2 linked regions of the Homo sapiens genome follow. The protein of the gene in region 2 binds, or shares a complex with, the protein of the main gene of each other region. Each region holds a gene or a part of one and is shown on either strand. Other genes may lie near its edges.

Evidence for each region.
Region 1: the proteins of UPF1 (region 2) and UPF2 are in contact, whole or in part, in a crystal structure (PDB 2WJV), measured with the Homo sapiens proteins. Residues at the interface, in NP_001284478.1 of Homo sapiens: Asn150, Thr151, Ser152, Gly153, Val157, Asn158, Leu160, Val161, Arg162, Lys164, Lys166, Pro175, Leu176, Gly177, Thr179, Tyr184, Cys188, Asn190, Val191, Phe192, Leu193, Phe196, Pro198, Asp202, Ser203, Val204, Val205, Val206, Leu207, Cys209; in NP_056357.1 of Homo sapiens: Val1105, Cys1107, Glu1109, Asp1110, Phe1113, Ile1114, Ala1116, Leu1117, Met1120, Met1121, Asn1124, Leu1125, Arg1128, Met1169, Pro1170, Phe1171, Val1172, Met1173, Leu1174, Thr1175, Gln1181, Lys1184, Leu1186, Asn1187, Val1188, Pro1189, Ser1192, Gln1193, Leu1194, Asn1197.

The regions. Positions count from the first base shown.
Region 1 is NC_000010.11:12,025,810-12,032,809, forward strand, and holds part of UPF2 (regulator of nonsense transcripts 2), read right to left. Parts: intron 3,716-7,000; coding exon 2,936-3,715; intron 1-2,935. UniProt on the Homo sapiens protein: Involved in nonsense-mediated decay (NMD) of mRNAs containing premature stop codons by associating with the nuclear exon junction complex (EJC).
Region 2 is NC_000019.10:18,832,669-18,849,015, reverse strand, and holds part of UPF1 (regulator of nonsense transcripts 1), read right to left. Parts: intron 15,343-16,347; exon of another isoform or gene 15,328-15,342; coding exon of another isoform or gene 15,226-15,327; intron 3,037-15,225; coding exon 2,897-3,036; intron 1,273-2,896; coding exon 1,183-1,272; intron 1-1,182. UniProt on the Homo sapiens protein: RNA-dependent helicase required for nonsense-mediated decay (NMD) of aberrant mRNAs containing premature stop codons and modulates the expression level of normal mRNAs.

The sequences.
Region 1 (7,000 bases), on a different chromosome or scaffold from region 2:
TTCGAGACAGGGTCTCTCTCTGTCGCCCAGGCTAGAGTGCAGTGGTGCGATCATGGCTTACTGCAGTCTCGACTTTCCAGGCTCAACTGATCCTCCCACCTCAGCCCCCAAGTAGCTGAGACTACAAGCGCATGCCACCACACCCAGCTAATTTTTATATTTTTTGTAGCAATGGGGTTTCAGCATGTTGCCCAGGCTAGTCTCAAACTCCTGGGCTCAAGCGATCCTTCTGCCTCAGCCTCCCAAAGTGCTGACATTACAGGCGTGAGCCACCGCACCCTGCCAGTACTATTAATAATACACATGTAATCAATATCCAAAGCTTTCATAAAGCTAAAATAATATACAAAAAGCATCTAAATAAAGTTTAACAGAGATATGCAAGTACACATTTAGGCTTTAAAAATTGTATTTCACTAGTTTAAGGTGAAGAAGAAGTGGCTTGTCAGCAGTTCATATGAGAAATAAAGCTTCAGTGCAAATAAGTTTAACAAAAACCAAAAGAACAACAAGGTAGCTATAAAAACTAAGGCAATTTTAGGTCACAGATAGAAAAGAATGCATCCAAAACAAGTATCCTAAGAGTAGTGAAGTGTCTGGAAATCATGGAGCAAACTGAAAGAACTGGAGGTATTTAACATGGAGACGAGAAAAGGGAAACATCACGGCAGTCTGAATATCTGAGATACTGTCATGGGAATAAAAGTGGACACATATGTCCTCTACTGGTATTCCTCAAACCATCTGTGGTAAAGGGCCACCTTTCCTTCCCCAACCACTGGACACTTCTGTAAAAATATAGTAAGAATACCATGACCACTGAAAATTCCTATAAACTTTTTTTTTTTTTTTTTTTTTAGGACGAAGTCTCGCTCTTGTCCTCCAGGCTGGAGTGCAATGGCACAATCTCGGCTCACTGCAACCTCCACCTCCCAGGGTCAAGTGATTCTCCTGCCTCAGTCCCCCACAAGTAGCTGGGATTACCGGGGCCTGCCACCATGCCCGGCTAATTTTTGCATTTTTAGTAGAGACGGGGTTTCACCATGTTGGCCAGGCTGGTCTCAAACTCCTGACCTCAGATGATCCACCCACCTTGGCCTCCCAAAGTGCTGGGATTACAGGTGTGAGCCACCATTTCCAGCCTGAAAATTCCTATAATAATTTCTAAATGCTCACTCTCACTTTCTGTGTTTCATTAAATTGTGAACAGGTTACAAGTTCATAGATTTCCTACTTCAAGTACCTGTATTCCATCCATACCAGAAAAAAGAACCAAATCAAAGGGAATCATTTTGTGGGAAGTTAAATTTCCACCTGATGTAACAAAGAATTCCTAGCCCATAGTGTTTCCAACAGTGCAATGGCACCGAGAGAACTGAGCTCCTTTGGGAAGTATTCAGAGGAAAAATAATTTTATCTGTTAGATAATCTAAAAAATGTATTCCTACTTTGGAAAGGTGAATGGATTGGATTAAAACATCGTAGAATCTCTCCACTCTCCAAGATTCTGAGTCCAATCAAAAGCAAATACACACACATACACCCTCAAAGTAGCCAAGAACTAATCAATCATTAGCATACTATTAGCATACTCACAAATCAGTTATGATGTATTAGGTAGGATGTACGAGCAAAGGACTATGAAATTGACAAAGCATATGGAAATCATAATTAAGCCCTAAGTAAGTGAGAAGTATGAATAAAGCACCACCATAATCCTTTTTAGTCCATTACTGATGGTACAAGTACACTCTCAGGTTGCCTCTTCAAAGTTTAAACCAGTCCTCGCAAATCAAAACACAAAACAAGGATAAGCCTTTTCCTTTTTCCTAAAAGAACTATTGATAACACCTTTGCCGTCTTAAATTCTCACCTCTGAGTGACCTTCAGCCACAAAGATTTAACCACAGTCTCTACCTTGACCCTGCCCTAACTGTACTACTGGCATACACTACTCCTGTTCAATCTTCTGGTCAATCATCTTCTAGTGGTAACTACTTAAACCACTCCTCCCCTACCACAGACTTATGAAACTAGAAAAGGATCTCCTCCTATACAAATTTCTGATCAACAGTAATTTCAGATTCTCAACCATGCAATATAAATAGTTGTAGAAATATTAAAATAGTTTAATACTCAGCCACGTGCTATGGCTATTACCTCTTTGCTACACTCCCTCAGCCCCCCTCCAAATCCATCCTCCATAGAAATTGACCTAATGCCTAGCAACTCCATCAACTTCTAGCTTCTTGTTGCTCCTCAGGTACAAATACTACACAGTAGTCTACCATACCTTTTAACAACCAAAATTGGCCCCAAAGTCAGGTCTTTTCACCAATTACCACAGGCACAGTACATTCCTCCTTTAGAATTTTAAATGAATGCCCCCAGGAAGAAGACTCCTACAAATGAGTTTTGTAGTTGCATTTAAGAAATTTTTTCACAGCTAATTTTGTGCATTATTTCCCAAAACTCTAATCTGAAATACCACTGGTAATTAATGACTCATTTTCTTAAGAAGAGCAACAGTGACATAAAGAACTTAAAATACAAAACAATGAAAGCAAACCTGTTATAGAGAGAACGTTAAAGCACACAGAAAAATATTAGCAGGTAAGTTTAAGTGACAGAAAAGGAAATTTTACCCCTTGATTATTAAGGAGTATTTAAAATCACAGGAAGAATACACATCCACAAAGCAAAAATCACCATCTACTTGGCAGATTTTTTTAAAATCAGAAACAAAATCTATCGTAGACTCACATTAAAACATGAGTACTCAGACTGTTCTACTTTGAAATTTTCCTGGAATGTTAAGAAATCACCTGTAAGGAGCCCTTTTCCATAAGTTCTTTCAGTGGCATGAAGACTTTAAACATTTTTAAGTATGAGCTCCAAAATAAATTCTCAACTCTGAGAAACATTTGAAAATCACCTGTTTTGTCTCTCAGTATTCTGGAGCTCCCTGTGGTCCCTTTTCAGGTGTTTGGTCAAAGACGTAAAGTACTCTTTTAAAAGATTCTGGAAGGGCTGTTGTTTCTCTGGACTAATTATCTCACTAGGAGGAAAACTCAAATTAAACTTCTCTGCAGCACTCTTTACTTTCCTTGGTACAAGTCCAGCAATATCATCTCCACAATGTCGACAGAAACTAATCACTACAGAGACATGAGTGTGGGACTCCCGATCAGCATTAATAATATTTTTTAGCTGTTCATAGATTAAGGAAAGACCTTCCTTGTCAGTGAAAATCCCAACTATTGTCAATTCTGCAATAAAACGCAAATCAGTTCTTAACTTGGTGATGTTAGGTGTTTTCTCCTCTTTCCTTGCTTCAAAATGTTTTTTCCAGACCTGAAGAAGTGATGGGGCAAAGTCAGCATAACGCTGGTGAAAGAGAGAGCAGAGGTGCACAGCACAGTTCACATCAGAGATTTTTAGTTTTGCTTCCACGATGGAAGCTACAGCTTCTGCAATGTATTTGCTTAAATTTAGGCCATTAAAATCATGGGACAAGGAGTCTCTCTGTTGTTCTGTAATAGTTTTTAGTTTCTTGACAAAAGCAGTATTTTTCTTCAAACTTGAGTCGAGGCGGCTGAAGAAGTTTTCCTCTGGTCGGCTGTCCGGAGCATTTTGGTTTTTGCTACGAAGTTCCTTTCTTAAATGATGTCGTTCCCAAGCTTCCTGATGAAGCTGAATGGATTCTTCTTTTTCTCTATATAAAAACAAACAAATAAATAAAATACTCTCTACATTTTGAAGCATTATACACAAATCCCCTAAGAGTAAAAAGCCAATGAAAAAAATTATCTAAGTATAACAATCTACAAGATTCAAAAGGCCTTTCACTACTTTTAAAGACATTTTACTGGCCAGGCATGGTGGCTCATGCCTGTAATCCCAGCACTTTGGGAGGCCAAAGCAGACAGATCACCTGAGGTCAGGAGTTCAAGGCCAGCGTGGCCAATATGGTGAAACCCCACCTCTACTAAAAATACAAAAATTAGCTGGGCGTGATGGCGCTCACCTGTAGTCCCAGCTATTCAGGAGGCTGAGGCACAACACTTAAACCCAAGAGGCAGAGGTTGCAATGAGCCAAGAACGTGACACTGCACTCTAGTCTGGGCGACAGAGCAAGACTCCGTCTCAAAAAAAAAAAAACAAAAAAAAAACACATAAAGACATTTTACTAACGACTAACGATAACAAGTATTATCTTAATGAGAAGCCCAGTACTGGAGGTCGATAACAAATGTCATAGAGCAGAGGATACTGACACTAGATTAAAATTAAAAATCATTCTGCCAACTGGCAAGCTAACTAGGTAAGACATATAATGCTACTGTGAAAAATATAGTATGTTTGGGAAGGATGTAAAATGTGAAACAAATAAAAGCAATGGGCAAAGAGAAAAAAAAACAATTATACACAAAGAATTATTTAAAGAATTAGCACTACAAGACCAGATGTGGTGGCTCCCAGCACTTTGGGAGGCGGGTGGATCACCTAAGGTCAGGGGTTCGAGACCAGCTTGGCCAACATGGTGAAACCCCGTCTCTACTAAAAATACAAAAATCAGCCAGTCGTGGTGGTGGGCACCTGTAATCTCAGCTACTTGGGAGGCTGAGGCAGGAGAATTGCTTAAACCTGGGAGTCGGAGACTGATGCTGCAGTAAGCCAAGATCTCCCAACTGCACTCCAACCTGGGCAACAGAGCGAGACTCTGCCTCAAAAAATAATAATAATAATAATAATAATTAGCACTATAAAAGAATGCATTAAAAATGTTTTGAGGCCTGGGCAGTGGCTCACGCCTGTAATCCCAGCACTTTGGGAGGCCGAGGCAGGCAGATCACGAGGTCAGGAGATCGACACCATCCTGACTAACATGGTGAAACGCCATCTCTACTAAAAATAACAAAAAATTAGCAGGGCATGGTTGCACGCGCCTGTAGTCCCAGCTACTCAGGAGGCTGAGGCAGCAGAATTGCTTGAACCCGGGAGGCGCAGGTTGCCGTGAGCCAAGATCATGCCACTGCACTCCAACCTGTGTGACAGAGCAAGACTCTGTCTCAAAAAAAAAGGCCAGGCACGGTGGCTCATGCCTGTAATCCCAGCACTTTGGGAGGCCGAGGCGGGTGGATCACGAGGTTAGGAGATCGAGACCATCTTGGCTAACACAGTGAAACCCCGTCTCTACTAAAAATACAAAAAATTAGCCGGGCGCAGTGGCAGGCACCTGTAATCCCAGCTACTCAGGAGGCTGAGGCAGGAGAATGGCATGAACCCGGGAGGCGGAGCTTGCAGTGAGCCGATATAGTGCCACTGCAGTCCGGCCTGGGCGAAAGAGCAAGACTCCATCTCAAAAAAAAAAAAAAAAACAAAACAGTTTTGCAATGTTAGATATTGTTTTTCCATCCTCAGCACATTAGCCAAACCTTTAACAAAGTACCTTGCTATGTTTGGGCTCTTAAAAATTCAAGTGATTTAGAAAATTTGGAAAGGAACCAGAAGACAACTATCAAATAAGAAACTTAATAAAAACCTAGTAGACTCAGTTTATACTGAAAAGAATAACCAAAAACAAATATACCTATTTTTCCACTAAAAAGACAGAACAAGTTTAAATTGCAGAAGTAATAAAATAGGCACGAGTGAGGGGCAACAATCTGATTTTGAAGTTTATTGAAGTTTTTGAGATAACAAAACACATAACTTAAATCTCCACTTTGTGAAGCTGAGGTGGGAAGAGCCCAGGAGTTAAGACCAGACTGGGCAACATAGTAAGACCCAATCTCTACAAAAAAATTTTAAAAATTAGCTGGACATGGTGGCACATGCCTGTAGTCCCAGTTACTTGGGAGGCTGAGACGGGGGGATCGCTTGAGCCCAGGAGGTTGAAGCTGCAGTGAGTCATGATCACACCATAGCTCTCCAGCCTGGGTGACAGAGTGAGCCCTGTCTCAAAAAGTTATACGCATATCTATAAATCTCTAAAAAAGTACATTTTCATCTTTCTGAGATAATCACCCCTGAGTTATAAGATAATTATTTGATTTTTCCATTAAAAGCTACAATATATTAACAGAAAGGTGGCCTCTATCACTGAGAACATGGACAGTTGAGTATCTCTTTGAAGTCTCCCAGCAACACACAAATACAAAATGAGCAGTGAAAGTACATTTTAAGAAAGTATGTACAAGGCTGGGTGCCGTGGCTCACGCCTGTAATCCCAGCACTTTGGGAGGCCAAAACGGGTGGATCACCTGAGGTCAGGAGTTCGAGATCAGCCTGACCAACATGGAGAAACACTGTCTCTACTAAAAATACAAAAATTAGCCGGGCATGGTGGCACATGCCTGTAATCCCAGCTACTCGGGAGGCTGAGGCAGGAGAATGGCTTGAACCTGGGAGGTGGAGGTTACGGTGAGCCGAGATCGCGCCATTGCATTCCAGCCTGGGCAACAAGAGTGAAACAACTCTGTCTCAAAAAAAAAAAAAAGAAAGAAAAGAAAAGAAAGTATGTACATACATTAAATAACTCAATTTTCAGCTGCATTGAAAACACTTATATATCGAAGTTTTTATGGGTAAATGCTATGATGCTCTACAATACTCCAGGGGGAAAAAGTGGGTAATTATTGATGCTAGGTAGATGGGGGACTAGTTCACTATACTATTCTATTTTTGCATATATCTGAAATTTTCCCAGGAGCTCAGGAGTTCAAGACCAGCCTGGGCAACACAGCAAAACCCCGTCTCTACAAAAAATACAAAAATTAGCCAAGTATGGTGGTATGCATCTGTAGTCCCAGCTACTCAAGAGGCAGAGGCGGGAGGATCACTTGAGCCCAGAAGGCAGAGATCGCAGTGAGCCAAGACCAGGCCACTGCACTCCAGCCTGGGTGACAGAGCAAGACCCTGTCTCAAAAAAAAAAAAAAAAGACTCTCTTAAGAATCATGGTTCTGAATATTCCAAAACTAGGCACTACTATAGCTT
Region 2 (16,347 bases):
CACAGAATGCTCAGTGGTGCTTGGCTCAAGCCTGTTGTTTCTCAGAGGCCCTTTTGCTCACTTCCCTGTTCTTGGCTATGCTGACCGGAAGCTGGGGTTGCCAGCTAAGAGAAGTTTTATTTAGTTGCTTTTCCTGAACAAGAGGAACTAAATGCAAACATAGCAACACTTAAATTACCCAGAAGATTCTGAAAATGGGACAAGAATGTCTTTTGGTTATCCAGAAGATACCCTTCTTTAAAATCTTTTAAAAACAGCAGCCCCTTTCTGGCCTTGCTCATAACACCATATTTCAAGTTACTAACTCAGAGATGCCACGAGATCTGACTGCTCCATCTGTAACCCTCCGAGACCCACAGCTGTCAAAGGCACAGGAGGGGCTTGTGTCAGCACAAGTAAGCCTGCCTCCGGGCTTTGGTCATTTTCTTTCTCCAGAACGTGAACCTCAGAAAAAGACCCCACACTTCCTTGCTAGCACCTCGGAGCTCTGCCTCCCAGGCTCTGCTCCATCCTCTCCAGCAGTGGAGTGACCTGTACACAGCAACCTGGAGGGGAAGGGGAGCCGCTAGCACGGGACCCACCAGGACGAGAGTCCCACCACTCGGGCAAGACCATCGAACTCCCCCCTTGGAATTTGGGCACTGGGAGAACACTGTCCTGTCCCAAACACAGAACAAGCGACACAGTCCAGCTGCAGCTGATCAACATCAGGAAGGCAAGCCCAGCGCCGACGGTCAAGTGAACTTAATTGAAGCCGATGATTCAGGATCTGGCCTGAATTAGCCTCCGGACAGCTCCGATGAGCTCAGGCCAGAGCAAGCTTGCTCAGGAACCAGCGCCCCTGGATGCCCGTTACTGCCTTGGGAACATCCTCCCGTTAATGAAGATCAGCGGGTGTGCCAAGAGCTCATCTTGCAGAAAAATCGAAATAAAAACTGGGAAGGAGAATTAAGCCAACCCTACTTGCATAATAAAAAGAGCCACAGAGAATAAATCAAGGGTAAATACATTAAGGCATTCACACACCACCATCTGTTTCAAGTTAAACCAGTCACAGAGGAGGAAAAAACCCAGGTTTGTTAGCGTGATTTTATATTACGCTTTGCTTCAACATTTCCATAATTTACACACAAATCTGAGCACAGCACTGATTAAACACACATGCATGGTCTGATTATCTACCTGCCAGAAGTATTTCCACGTCCGTTGCAGAACCACTTCTTGCTGGTATTACAGTAAACCACGCAGGCAGGATCGTGTATTCCACAGTAACTAAAAAATCAAAACAGCGACAGTTACAGCTGGAAGCTTGCTCTCTGGTTTTCATTTGGCAAGATGTGAAATTCTTTCCTCTGACAACATTTTTAAGTTCTTCATTAAACACATACTCAACCCCAACAATCCCAGTAACCAAATCAAACCAGTTAACCAGGGCTTCTCAAATCCAAGAATGCAGGGAAGGGGTATGTGGCAGAAGCTCCGAGGGGATAAGGAGCAAAGCCACCTCCAAGGAGAGTCCTGCTGGAAGGAGGCCTCACTCCTCCAGGGCCATTCTAGTCCCCGTTCTTTGGCCTGAAATTCAGGAATCCAGCCTCAGACCCAGTGGTCATGGTGAACTCTGGGCTCCAGCAGAGGGCACTGTGCTCCCAGGGAGCTGGGCACAGACCCTGCAGCAGCAGCGCCCTGAAGCTCAGGCCCCGAAGCCCAAGCGAGGAGCCTCGGGAGAGCCTCACCCCACCACTGGCTGTGGTTTTCTGAAAATCCACATACCAAACCCAAAAATACTAGCTCCCCAGAGCTGCACCAGGACTTATGGCCATCTCTGTGTGTTAAGAGAACACAATTACATACACGAAAACATCTGTAAATGAGAATGAGTGAAGAGCTGAGATGCAGGAAAGAGTGCCTGCCCACCAAGCCTAGCGAAGAGCAGCCTCAGTCCCGGAGCGCTGGGCAGCACGCGGGCAAGGAGCTGCAGGGAGGGCCCCAAGTGGGTGCCCACAGACAGAGGCAGGGCTCAGGCCCAAACCTGCCGTGACTGTCGCTCAGGCTGGAGTGCAGTGGTGCGATCTCGGCTCACTACAACCTCCGCCTCCCGGGTTCATGTCATTCTCCTGCCTCAGCCTCCCAAGTAGCTAGCTGGGACTACAGGCGCCCGCCACCATGCTTGGCTAATTTTTTGTATTTTTAGTGGAGACAGGGTTTCACCGTGTTAGCCAGGATGGTCTCGATCTCCTGACCTCGTGATCTGCCCACCTCGGCCTCCCAAAGTGCTGGGATTACAGGAGTGAGCCACCGTGCCTGGCCAAAACCTTCTCCCCTCTTCTAATCTACATTTCCTCACTTGTGTGTCACAAAAATACAGAAATAAGCCTCAACAAGGGACGATCCCACTCGAGATGAGAATTCTAAATTTGTCAACATGCAGGTCTATCCACTAACTACTGTCTTCACATCCAATTCTCCAGGCACGGCCAAGGCAGCGGGAGGCAGGGATGCCCCAGAACCCTGCAGCAACTGCTTTGTGAGGGTATCTCAGCTGCTCCACTCACCCTCCCACCCCAGATGCTCACCCAATGCCATGACAAATTCTTTCTATGAGTGAGTGCGCAGGTACCAGGCAATGCCCCCAGGGTCTGAGGAGGCCAAAGGAAGGAAAACTTTTCCCACCAGCTGGTGAATTCAGGGTGTCGGAGGTTGCTGAGCCCACCTCCTGACCGGTAACAGGCCTTGGCTGTGCACATGGCCTGAGCAATTTCCTTACTCCCGAGGACACCGCCACCCAGAGTCACAGCACAAGGGCGCCACCCTGTACCTGGGAGGTGAGTGTCCCAGGCCCATGCCAGAGGCACCCACCTGTCCAGCACATGCCCAGGCCCAGCTGAGCTCAGCTCACCTGCAGGCGTGTATGGGGAGGTCCTTCGTGTAATAGGTGTCTTCTTCATCTTCCTCGAAGTTCAACTCAGCCAACAACTGGCTGGTCTTGGCTACACTGTCGTCCACAGCCCCGTTCTGCAGGATGCCTTCGGGCCCAACCTGCAGCAGAACGCAGTGTCACCTGAGTGAGGCTGCAGCTTCCAGGACTCAGTGCAGAAGAACCAGCCTCGATGACTCTGGTGTGACACCCTGGCCTCATCTCTGCTTTGAGACAGTTTCCCTTGTTCTGACTGGATTTCACTCTTCTCTAGCAAACCTACCTGGCCAAAAAAGGGCCACTGGTGGCCTTCTACACCCCCCGGTCCCCCACACAGCTGGTCTAACCCCCGCCTAGCCACAGAGCCATGTCCATGCCCACAACCAGGATGCTTAGGAAGATGCTTCTTTCCCATGACTGAGGACCACAAGGAGCAGGGTGACTTTTACAGACTGACAGCAGTGTGCCCTGAGGACAGCTTCATGATGCCAGACCCACCACAGTGTAAGGCTCATCAAACACTACGAAGCTGCCACCCATGCAGATGTGGAAATGTCACTGGCCACATCCACTGCCACCTCACCCTCCCCATCCCTTCAAGGCAGCCCTCTCCTGAGGATGAAGTAGAAACTGAACACTGAGATACCCTTGGCAACCGAGGCCACACCCTCACTGAAGGCGCCTCTTCTATGTTCAGCAAAGGCAGACAGCGCATGGCTCTAAGTCATCAGGCCACAACTGCACAGGACACTTGCAAGGAGACCACACAGCCACTGGGGCTCCTCATGCCACTCCCAAGTACCAGCACCTCAAATGACATGGCCAACAGTCCCTGGCATGGCCCCCATAGGCCACCTAACCCCACCACGGGGTCAGGCAGCGGGAGCACTGTGTCATGGCAGAACACAAGGTGGCACAAAATTAAGGGCCAGGGAGGAGTGATGGGAGCTCCCCTAGGGACGGCACCAAATCTCCCACTGCCAGTCCCAGCACCCCAGACAGCCCCTCGGCCTAATGCCCTTGCTGTGTGATGCAGCACCTGTGCGAGCCTAGGGACAGGTGCTCATGGGGAGCAGCACCCCACAGAGGCCCCTCCAGCCCGCCTGGCTGGGGTGCATGGGCACGTGCTACCTGCACGCACAGATGCACACTGGGCCCAATGCTGCCCTGCAGTGATCTGGTCACAACACAAGCTGACTTCTGGGTTAACTTCTCCCTTCACTCTCTGAAAAGTTTCAAGATAAAACATTAATTTCAAAAATATATTTGACCCTAGGAACTATCATGAAATGAGGTAAAACAGCAGTAGGGGACAGTGCCTGGCACAGAGAAGTTCCACAGCCCACGCCAGGGGACATGATGGGTGAAGGACAAGAGGGTCATCATCTTCAGCTGGCACAGAGCTGCCACTCCAATAAAGTCCTTTGAGGCTGTCAACTTATCCCCTCACCAGGGAGGCTCTGGAGGGGCAAGGCCTCCCTGTACCCATCCCAGGCATTCACCAAGAAGCAGCTCCTCGGCAGGGCGGATCACCTGAGGTCAGGAGTTCGAGACCAGCCTGGCCAACATGGTGAAACCTCGTTTTTACTAAAAAGGCAAAAAAAAAAAAAATTAGCTGGACGTGGTGGCACGTGCCTGTAATCTCAGCTACTTGGGAGGCTGAGACAGGAGAATTGCTTGAACCCAGGAGGCGCAGGTTGCAGTGAGCTGAGACCGTGCCACTGCACGCTCCACCTTGGGCAACAAGAGCAAAACTCCATCTCAAAAAAAAAAAGAAAAAAGAAAAACCCAAACCCCCCCCCGGCCCCCAAAAAAAGCAGCTCCTCCCATCACCTCTGCTCTGGACACAGTATTTAAAGACGTATCCTAGAATTCCCACTTCCTAGTCATACACGAGGCCCCAGAGCTGGAGTCTCTAACTCCTTTAGTTCTGGATGTGAACCTAGCTACGACTAAAACCACATCCTGGAAGTCCATCTAAGAGCTGTACAGGGGCTTTCTGCCCAGAGACATGCTCCAGAACTCAGACCGTGCATCAGGGCAGCACAACAGTAGGTCACTTCAAGGCTAGGAATGGTGGCTCACACCTGTCATCCCAACACTTTGGGAGGATCGCTTGAGCCCGGGAGTTCTCAAGACCAGCCTGGGCAACACAGCCAAGATCCTGTCTCCACAAAAAAATACACAAACGAGCCAGGTGTGGTGGCGCACACTTGTAGTCCCAGCTAATCAGGAGGTTGAGGCCGGAGGATTGCTTGACCCCAGCAGGTCAAGGCCGCTGTGAGCTATGATGGTACCACTGAACTTTAGCCTGAGCAACAGACCAAGACCCTGTCTCTCTTAACAACAACACACACACACACACACACACACACACACACACAAGCCTGGCCAACATGGCAAAACCCCATCTCTACTAAAAATACAAAAGATTAGCTGGGCATGGTGATGCGCACCTGTAATCCCCGTGCAGGAGAATCGCTTGAACCCAGGAGGCGGAGGTTGCAGTGAGCCGAGATCACACCACTGCACTCCAGCCTGAGTCACAGAGCAAGACTCTGTCTCAAAAAAAAAAAAAAAAAACAAAGAAAGTCACTTCATTCCCACAGACGAAAACCACAGAAATTCAAAAACTCAAAAATCCCCCCAAATGTGCCATCATAAACTCTCAGGCCGCAGACATCTACTCCAACATTTGCACCACTGTCTGCATTTGCCAGCACCCAGGCCTTGCACCTGCTGTTCCCTCAGCCTCAGGGTGAGGTCCACAGGGTGCCTCTCAGGCAGGCATCCTCTGACCCCACCTCAAGGCCCCCGTGGGGCATTGTCTGTCCTGCTCCCTGCCATGAGCCCAGCACCTAGATGGAGCCTGCACCCCAGGAGGCCCTCAACATTGTTGGCTAAAGGCCAAGCTCAAAAGGCAAAGCAGCTCATTCCTGATTCTCTAATTCCAAGGCTTAAATAAAAGAGAGGGCAGGAGGCCAGGCGTGATGGCTCATACCTGTAATCCCAGCACTCTGGGAGGCCAAGGCAGGAGGATCTTGAGCCCAGGGTTTGAGAATAGCCTGGGCAAGATAGTGAGGCCCCATCTCTATTTAAATTTTTTTTTTTTTTGAGACGGAGTTTCACTCTCGTTGCCTACGCTGGAGTGCAATGGCGCGATCTCGGCTCACCGCAACCTCTGCCTCCCGGGTTCAAGCGATTCTCCTGCCTCAGCCTCCCAAGTAGCTGGGATTACAGGCATGCGCCACCACGCCTATTTTTAGTAGAGACAGGGTTTCTCCATGTTGGTCTGGCTGGTCTCGAACTCCCAACCTCAGGTGATCCACCCACCTTGGCCTCCCAAAATGCTGGGATTACAGGTGTGAGCCACTGCACCCAGCACCCCCCCAAATTTTTTTTAATTAAAAAAATTGTAAAGGAAAAAAAGGGGAGGGAATAGGAAGTTCACCACACCCTCAGAGTGATGACTGCCAAGAAGCTGCAGGGTCTCTGAGCCCTCTCAAGGCAGAGGGTTGCCAGGAGGTCTGGCCCCCAAACTGGAAGGATTCTGCCCTGATATTTCCTCTTATTTTGAAAAATTCCAAAGCTACAGAAATCCGACCCCCACACCCCTCCAGCTGGACACTCTCCATCACATCCCCCTGCACTCCGACTCCCCTTGCTCTCACACACTTATCTCTTCCTGACCCATTTCAGAGTGGCCGGCCCCAGGGGAGGGCTTTCTCCACATCCCCACAAAACAGCTGGCTCATGAGCGCACCCAGCCTGCCACACTGTTGGTTAATACACATTCACCCATCACCCCAATGTCTTCATAACGTCTTTTACAGGTTTTTAAGAATCCAAGTCCCAGTTAATGACTGCACGTGATTTGTGATGTCTCTTTAGCCACCTTTAATCTATTAGTTTGAACCACGTGAAACTGCTAGGAGTTGACCATCTTTCACATAGTCCCACCACCCGACACAGCGGTCCCCAGGCTCTCCATTCCTTTATTTTTTTGAGACAGGGTCTTGCTCTGCCACCCAGGCTGGAGTGCAGTGGTAGAATCATAGCTCACTGCATCCTCAAACTCCTGAACTTAAAAGAGATCCTCTTGCCTCAGCGTCCCAAGTAGCTGAGACTACAGGTGTGCACAATGCCTAGAAAGTTTTTTAATTTTTCAATATGTTGCCTAGGCTCACATTCGTTCTTCCCAAAGAGAAAGGGCCTCTCGCCTCCCCTCTCACCAATGGCACCTGTGTGGACCGGCAGACCCTTGTTCCAGCCAGGTGTGCTAGAGTCCGCGTGAGGTTCATTTCAACGGGCCGAGTGTGCAAGGCATCCCCAGCTCACCTCAGGCCGCCCCTGCCTTCCCAGCCCGGGGATCAGCCACTCTCCCTGGAGCCCACAGCCTGAGATGAAATCCACTCCACACCTTCAGCAAGAAGCTGAAGTGTGACAATGAGGGGTTCAGTCCAGAAGGTGCACACCTCACAGGACAACAACCCAGGCCAGACTGCAGCTTGGCGAGATGAAAAGCAGCGGGAGAGGCCGCTCGGAACGCAGGGCCCAGAGACAGCCATCATCTCAACAGCGGACCTCCAGGATCCCAGTAAAGAATCTGCTGTGGAGAGAGGCCAACTGTCCCTACATATCGGACAATCGTGAAAAGCCATTGTTGACGCTGCTTGTGTGATAACGGCGCTGCAGCTATTCAGGACAGGCGCCCTTTTCTGCTTCTAGAAATGCATACTACATACTGCAGGTCAAAATGGCTGAGTATCGCCAATTCACAGGGCTCCACCTCAGACACAAAGGTGAAAGGACACAAAAGACTTGCTTTAAAAACACACACCAGTGAAGAAAAAAAAAGAAAACAGGGAGAAGAAAACCTTCACAACTGTCTCATCAGGGAGACGGAGGCACAGGGCTCACCAGCTCTTGTATGTTAGAGAATTCATCGTAGACGTTTCTACACGGAGGATGCAGCAGGGCTGCAAGCTATGCGCATGGATCCCCGTACTGAAAAAGAGGTGAGGACGGTGCAGGCAGCGCAGCTCTGACCAAACACCTCTGCCTGGGATCTGCAACCCCCTCTCCCAGGGCCGCCAGGAGCCTGCACTCGCTCTGCAAGGAGCTGATGCTTCAGGAAGATGCCATGCTCACTGTCACAAGGGCTCTCTAGAGCCCAACGAGCCACCTTTACACATCTAGACACCATCCTGGCAAAGGCCCACGGGACCTGAGAAGCCCGGCTGGGTTACCCGGCTCTTAAGCTGCTATTCGACCAACACAGAAAAAGGCACAAGGACCTGCTGCCAGCCACCAGACTCCAGGACCCAGCAGCCCTCCATGTATCAGAGAAAGCAGAACTTTGCTCTCATAGGTATGTGCTCCAGCAAGGAGAGCTCAAGGCCATGAACCCTCCGGAGCCCCGAACAGCACTGGTGCCAGGGCCCGGACCCACTCCTCCCACCAGCCCCTCCAGCCAGGCCCCTCGGCCCTGAATGCCACAGAGCACAGCTGGGTGTCACGGCCCTTCTCTGCCAAGCTAGACTATCCCGACCACCATGAAAGCACTCTCACCACCATGACAAGCACAAACTGCCCCTCAGTTGTGAGCTGCTGCCCAGCATGTGCCCTTTAGCTTCCTTGCAGCCGCTCTGGGGAGGCCTCTCCCTCTCACAAGGCCCTCAGGACGGTGCCTCCCCAGCGGAGAGAGCCCCGGCTCAGCCTGGGGAATTATGGACCCTGATGAGACCACAGGCAGGAGCTGGAGCTGCTTTTTAAGTCTGTGGCTCCCTGTGAGGACTGGGAGGGGGCAGCCGGTACCCTGGCAGTTCCCACAGGCACACACACTTACACACTTACTCATGCATACACACATGTACACACACAGCCCTGATCCCGGTGTCCTCCGTCTCCACTGCCCTGTGGCCCCTCCATCCATTCGGGGTCCAACCTGGGCCACAATGCCCAACCTCCAACACCACAGCCCCTCCCCTAACCCCCGCCACTGCCATCTCAGAGCCCTCCTCCCAGCCTTGGTCAAGGCACCCCAGCAGCTCCTAAAGGCTCCAGGACACAGCCCAGCCCCTGCCCTGGCCCCACTGGCCCCACATCCACCCTCCCTCCTTCTAGGCAAAGTGCTGTGCCCACCCCTCTGCCTGGCAGGTACAGCTTCTGAACAACTCCAGAGGCGCCATTCCCACAGGCTTTCCCTTAGCAGGGGAGCCCACTCCTACTCCTGGGGCCCTCACAGCACCCTGGCCAGGCGGCATGTGCTGTCTTCTAACAGTGCAACCGCGGGGGTCAAAGGCTTCACTCTCCCTCTGCTGGCCTCACTGCCCTCAGTCCCACAAGCACAGCAAGGCCAGGAAGTAAGAAAACAGCAGGGGATGGCTGAAGTCCAGGGCCAGGCTGAAGAGGTTGCCCAGCAGCTCGCAGAGGGTGCAAAAGTTAACAGACACGGGGCTTAAAGGCGGGGGAGCATGGGGCCAGGGCTTGGCCATGTTTCTGACCTCCCCAGGGCAGGGCTCAGTCTGAGGCGGTGGACACACCTCCCTAACGGGTGACCTTGGGCATGAGCACAGGGTCTGACAAGGGGTGGTGGGGAGGGAGCGGAAAGGAGCGAAAGAGAAATCAGAGACAGCAAGGCACTGCTGTGGTGGCTGCCCAATTCCGTAAATTTACTAAAACAGCACTAAGTTCTATACTTAAAGGGGCCAGGTGTGGTGGCTCATGCCTGTAATCTCAGCACCTTGGAAGGCCAAGGTGGGCAGATCACCTGAGGTCAGGAGCTCCAGACCAGCCTGGCCAACATGGTGAAACCCCGTCTCTACTAAAAATACAAAAAAATTAGTTGGGCATGGTGGTGCGCACCTGTAATCCCAGCTACTCGGGAGGCTGAGGCAGGAAAATCACTTAAACCCGGGAGGCAGAGGTTGTAGTGAGCCAAGATCGCGCCACTGCACTCCAGCCTGGGCGACAGTGCGAGACTCCGTCTAAAAAGAAAAGAAGGGGGTTCCCTGGTAGGTCATCAGACTTCAATCAAGCAATGAGAGAAATGTGGTGGTAGCTGATGGTGGTAAGCTTTTGTGGTGGTGGTAGCTAGGCTGAGAGGGAACTCTTTTTTTAGTTAGTCCTGGTATAGTATTAGTCATAATCCCCCACCCCGTCATCCTGAATCCGGGTAATTAATTGTGATAAAAATAGAAATTGTTTCGTGTATTCACCACTAACTGTAAAGTGTCAGCTCAGGTCACTTTCACATAATCACTGGGAAACTCCTAACAATTTGAAAACACACTCAGTAAGTCTACTAAGGGGTAAGTGCTGACCAAACACTTGCCAACACTCCTCCAGGTAAACGGCATCTTATCTCCAATGTTCTGGCACCCTAAAACCACACCTGGGCTACCAGAGGATTCAAAAAGCCAAAATGAAGTCATGAGCATTTTTTTTTTTTAAGATGGAGTTTTGCTCTTGTTGCCCAGGCTGGAGTGCAATGGCACAATCTCAGCTCACCGCAACCTCCACCTCCCGGGTTCAAGCGATTCTCCTGCCTCAGCCTCCCAAGTAACTGGGATTACAGGCATGTGCCACTATACCCAGCTAATTTTGTATTTTTAGTAGAGACAGGATTTCTCCATGTTGGTCAAGCTGGTCTGGAACTCCTGACCTCCGGTGATTCACCTGCCTCTGCCTCTCAAAGTGCTGAGATTACAGGCGTGAGCCACCAAGCCCGGCCTGGATTTTCTTCTTTTTATTAAGACAAGGTCTCACTCTGTCACCCAGGCTGGAGTGCAGTGGTGCGATCATGGACATTTTGCCCAGGCTGGTCTCAAACTCCTGAGCTCAAATGATCTGCCTGCCTCAGCCTCCCAAAGTACTGGGATTACAGGCATGGGCCATCGTGCCCAGCTACATGTGCAGATTTTAAACTCACCACTTTTCGGAACCCAAGACTGTATGGAACTCACCCCGCCTTGGTCATAATCTCAGGGCTCAGCAGAAGATGGTGTGTTCACCTGGACAGTCAAGGATAGGTCAGGACAATGGCTTTGAAGACAAAGTAGCAACTTTCTATCCTGAGTATTTTACCACTTCAAAAGGAAAAGTGAGCCCAGGTTTACACACTCAGAGAAGTGGAGGCAATACAGAGAAGTCTGGCAGGAGGAGAGTGAGGGCTGGACGACAGGTCGGCTAGGAGCTTTAGCTAGTTGTCCCTTACGATCCAGAAAGACAGCATGTTTTTCCTAGGGAAACAACTCATGCACTCAGAGTAAAATCCCAGTACGAGATGACTATTCAGCTGTGACTCCCACAGGCTACCAGGAGTGGAGACGGAACAGGCAGTGCAGACCTGACCTGAGGATGAAGGAACAAAGTGGGACCAGTACCAAGCAGCATCTATCTACAAGGTCACCCAGAGCACCTGCACAAAAACATGCGTGTTGCTGCCTAAAAGGTCTGTACCTACCCACAGACCTCATACTTTCAGGTGAGCTAAGAAAAGCAACTCAAACCAATAGGCACACATTTTTCCCACTGGATGTACACACTGCTTTGTTTACCCATTCATCTGCTGATGGCCACTGGGGCTGCTTCCGGTTTGGGGTTCTCATGAAGAGATGCTGTCAGCATTTGGCGCAGCCCTGCGTACACACACCTTCATCTCTGCTAGGTCACAGGTAGGTGTATGGCATGAGAGTTCCAGGCAGCACTTTTGCCAGGCTCAATGGCTCACTCTGTAATTCCAACACTTGGGAGGCCTGAGGTGAGAGGATCTCTTGAGCCCAGGAGTTCAAGACCAGCCTGGGTAACATGGCAAAACCCCATCTCTACAAAAAAAGAAAAATCAGCCAGACGTGGTGGCACACACCTGTAGTCCCAGCTACTTGGGAGGCTGAGGTGGAAGGATCGCTTGAGCCCAGGAGGTCGAGGCTGCAGTGACCCATGATAACGCCACTGCACTACAGCCTGGGTGACAGAATGAGACTTTGCCTTAAAACAAAAACAAAAAACCCAAGTAGCACTTTCAGCCTTTTAAAAAAAGTATGGCAGGCTGGGCGCAGTGGCTCACGGCTGTAATCCCAGCACTTTAGGAGGTAGAGGAGGGCGGAACACGAGGTCAGGAGATCAAGACCATCCTGACTAACATGGTGAAACCCTGCCTCTATAAAAATACAAAAAATTAGCCGGGCATGGTAGCACACACCTGTAGTCCCAGCTACTCGAGAGGCTAGGGCAGGAGAATCGCTTGAACCCAGGAGGTGGAGGTTGCAGTGAGCCAAGATTGTGCCACTGCACTCCAGCCTAGGCAACAGAGCGAGACTCCGTCTCCAAAAAAAAAAAAAAAAAAAAATGGGTGGATAGTGGTATCTCCCTGACTTTTCTTTCCAGTTTCATTGAGGCATAACTGACATACCATAAGCTGCAAATGTTTAGTGTGCCATTTTAGAAACTGACATACATCAATGTACTTAAACACCCATAAAACTATCACTACAATCACGATAATAAAAACGTCCATTACCCCCAAGTTTCCTGTGCCCTTTGTCACCTGCCTCCCCTTTCCCACCTTTCTGTCCAGCCACCACTGGTCTGCTTTCTATTGCTGCAGGCTAGCTGGCAATTTCTAGAATTTTTTTATGAATTAAATCATATGATGAATGACACATACAAAAAAGTAATTATTATGAGACACATCCATGTTGTTGCAGGTATCAATAGTTTGTTCCTTCTTAATACTGAGCAGTATTTCCAACTCTTAAGAGTTTCACTCTAGTTCCCGTTTGGAGGATCCAGGGCAGAAGCTACAGTCAAGAGGAAATATTCCAACCAGGCAGACCAAAAGGCTTGTAACACCAGCTATTATGCAAAGGACTTCTGAAATTACCTTCACTGTCCTGGGAGCAGGAGAAGTGGCAGCAGAGAAGGGCCCAGGAAAAGGTCAGATGCTCGAAAACTGTCCCTGTATCTTAAGGACACTTGGCAATACTGTGTCAGCGCTTTTCATCCCAGGATCTCAAGGGCTTTGATAAATATCAGTTTCATTTCATAAACAAGAAAAGGAGTGTTATCTGAACCAGCTCTGAGTGCAGGGAGTCACCCCTGCTGCCACTTTCCCATCCCGGTGGGGACACACTGTCTTTCAACACACATTAAGGGAAAACCAACTGCGCAAAACCAGTTCAGGTAGGGTTGGTATGGAAAGTGGCTACACACTGGAAAACAGTCTTGCAGTTACTGAAACCATTAAACCCAAGGTTACTACGCGGCCCAGCAGGTCTATAAACACATCCACGCAGAAACCTGTACACTCATGGCCACAGCAGTGCTATTCACAAAAGCCAAGAGGTGGAAACAACCCAAATGTCCATCAACAGATGACGAGATAAACAAAACATGGTCCATCCATCTGGACCATTCCACCCATGGAATATTACTCAGCCTTAAAAAGGAATGAAATGCTGGCCAGGTGCGGTGGCTCATGCTTGTAATCCCAGCACTTTGGGAGGCCGAGGCAAGTGGACCACATGGTCAGGAAATCAAGACCATCTGGCCAACATGGTGAAACCCCGTCTCTACTAAAAATACAAAAATTAGCCGGGGCATGGTGGTGTGCACCTGTAATCCCAGCTACTGGGGAGGCTGAGGCAGGAGAATCGCTTGAACCTGGGAGGCACAGGTTGCAGTGAGCCAAGATCACGCCACTGCACCCCAGCCTGGGCAACAGAGCGAGACTCTGTCTCAAAAAAAAAAAAGGAATGAAATGATGACACATACCACAGCGTGGATGAACCTCGATCAGGTTCATTTTCCTGAATGCTCGGCCAGGGAACAGCTACGAAGCTCACCTTGTAGCTACTTCTCACACATCACGCAGAGTGAAAGGAGCCAGACACAAAACACCATATATGATATGATTCCGTTGATGTGAAATGCCCAGAACAGGCACATCTTGAGACAGAAAGCAGGTGAGTGGTTGCCAGGGGCTGTGGAGGTAGGACGGATGGGCTAAGGGGTGCAGGGTTTATCTCTGGGGTGACAAAAATGTTCTAAAGTTTACTGTGGTAATGGCTGCACAACTCTGAATATACTAAATAAAAGCCGCCGAACTGTACACTTTATATGGGTAAATTGTATGTTGTGGCAAGTGAATTCTATTTCAATAAAGCCGCTAAGCAAAAGTGACTGCAGGGCACTTGACAGCTGATAGCCACTTCCCCAGTAAAATAAAAATTAAAAAAGCAGAATGAGAGTTTCCAGGAGCCCCCAACTTAACAGCTGGTTACACGGCCAACTCCTGAGGACAAACAGGGAAAGTCTTCCCAAATATCTTAGCAGACACTGCCTTCAATTCACACAAGAGATAACTTTCTTCCGCTTTCCCTTGAATGATATTCATAGACTTCCTTGCCCCCAAATTCCGTTCTTCCCCTTGTGATGCAAAGGGGTACCACTCCCATTCCCCACAAACAAATCCAAATTACAGGTAACAGGTGGGTGGGGCATCTGGGTCAATTACAAGTAGCACAGGACAAACCCTCTGATGTCGTCAGAATTCTAGTGAGCTCAACTGCAATGTTTACCTCCAGGGGAGCGTTTTAATGCTCTCCTTTTGTACAGCCCAGTGTGTTCAGGTGCAGGAAAAAAAATCAATTGTTTCAACTGAAAGAGAAGGACATGCCCCACAATTAATCCCAAACGGAATGCCAGAAACAAAAGCAGAACTAAAGGCTGCCCCAGGTTTGCTGTTTTATGCTCGCTACAGTTAAAAGGATTCACAAGAAAATGATTACCTTTCACACCCAGCCAACCCCCCGATCCGCGCTGTCACGCTCATGGCTCACTGCTCCACAGAGATCTTTACCGAGTCTCCCCGACAGGCTGGACGTCAGATTACAGACAGCGTATACAGTCGACTCACACATGGATCTAGGTTTCCTTTATGTTTAAAAGGAATAAAAATCTAACTGCCACCCCCATTTCACAGCTGCGGAAGCAGAAAGGTCTACAGGGCATGAAAACTACAAGGAGGTGGGGCCTCCGCAGCTCAGACTCCCTTCTTCAGGAGAACTCTCCTCTCTCCCTCCCTCCCTTCGCAAAATGTAAACAAAACTGAAAAAAACACCCATACGTGCACACCTGTTCTCCTCACACCCCACCTTCTATTTTAAGGAATATGGGGTTAGAATGAGTCAAATGTTTTTTGCTTCCATTAGGGGCTAAAAGAAAGCCCAAGTGGGTGGTCTACCCACGAGAGTGACTCAATCGACTACCACGTAAGCCCCCCATGCAAGGACAGGGTCTGAGCTCACTCTGGATGAGCAAGGAGTGGTTCCCCCAGTTCTGAAACACCAGCATATGCCAAGGGACACCTGTGCCAAGGTAAGCCTCGGAGCTTCTTCCTGTCGGAGCATTCAGGAAAACAAACCTGAGCGAGAGGTCAGGCACAAAGCAAGCCTAAGGTGAAAGCAACCTGAAATCCAGAGGGTGATGAGGACATTCCCCAGGACCCCGGTGCAACACGCGCCACCCCCCCAGCCCCTCTCCCACCCCAGGCAAGCAGCGCCCAGGACCAGGAAATGCATGCCCGATACTTCTCCCAACCCAAGCCCCCATTTAAAATACCTAAGTAACCTTCTCTAAACATCCACATCATTAAAAATAAGTTTCCAACGTGGCAGACTCGTTTATGTAAAGCCATTATTGCTGTCTTATTGGAAGAACAAAACTCAAACCCAACTTTTCCAAGGCAAGAGTTGTGAAGTTATGTAACAGGTCGGTTTCAGCAACAGGCGATGCAAGAAAAAACAAAATACAACCTGCTTCCTGAATGATCTTAATAGCCAGCCAATATGTGCTCCTCCATGGGAGGCAAAAATTCTTCTCTGCCTCAACCTTCCGCTGGCCAGCGCCCCTATGCATGGGGAAAGTCGAACCTACGCTCCGTGACTGTGAAAGGTGGGGTGCCCAGATGGCTGCGACCACAGATGGGAGGTGGGACAGGCGGCCAGACCCACCAATGGGGAGACCGGGCAGGACCCCCGGACCAGGCCAGAGACAGGATTAGGGCAGGTCACCCTGGATACTCCCGGAAAGGGACTGAGGGAAGTCACTCAAGCTCCGGCCTGAGCAAGACCCGGCCCAGGTCGTAGGAGAACTCGAGGCAGAATACCGAGACCTGCGAAAGAGGGACCAGGGCAGGTCACCCTAGCCCGGATGGAATGGAAGAACTCAGATAAGTCAGGGGGCAGGTTACTCCAGGCCAGACTGATTGTGGGACACAAGGCAGGTCAGCCCGGGCCCAGGAGGGGGAGCAAACCCAGCTGGCGTAAAGGAACAGGGTCAGGTTAGCTCGGTCCCGAACGAAGTGGAGGACTCGAGGCAAGTCTGCCCGGCCCAGGAGTTGGGGGCCGAAGGAACTCAGCCAGGTCGCG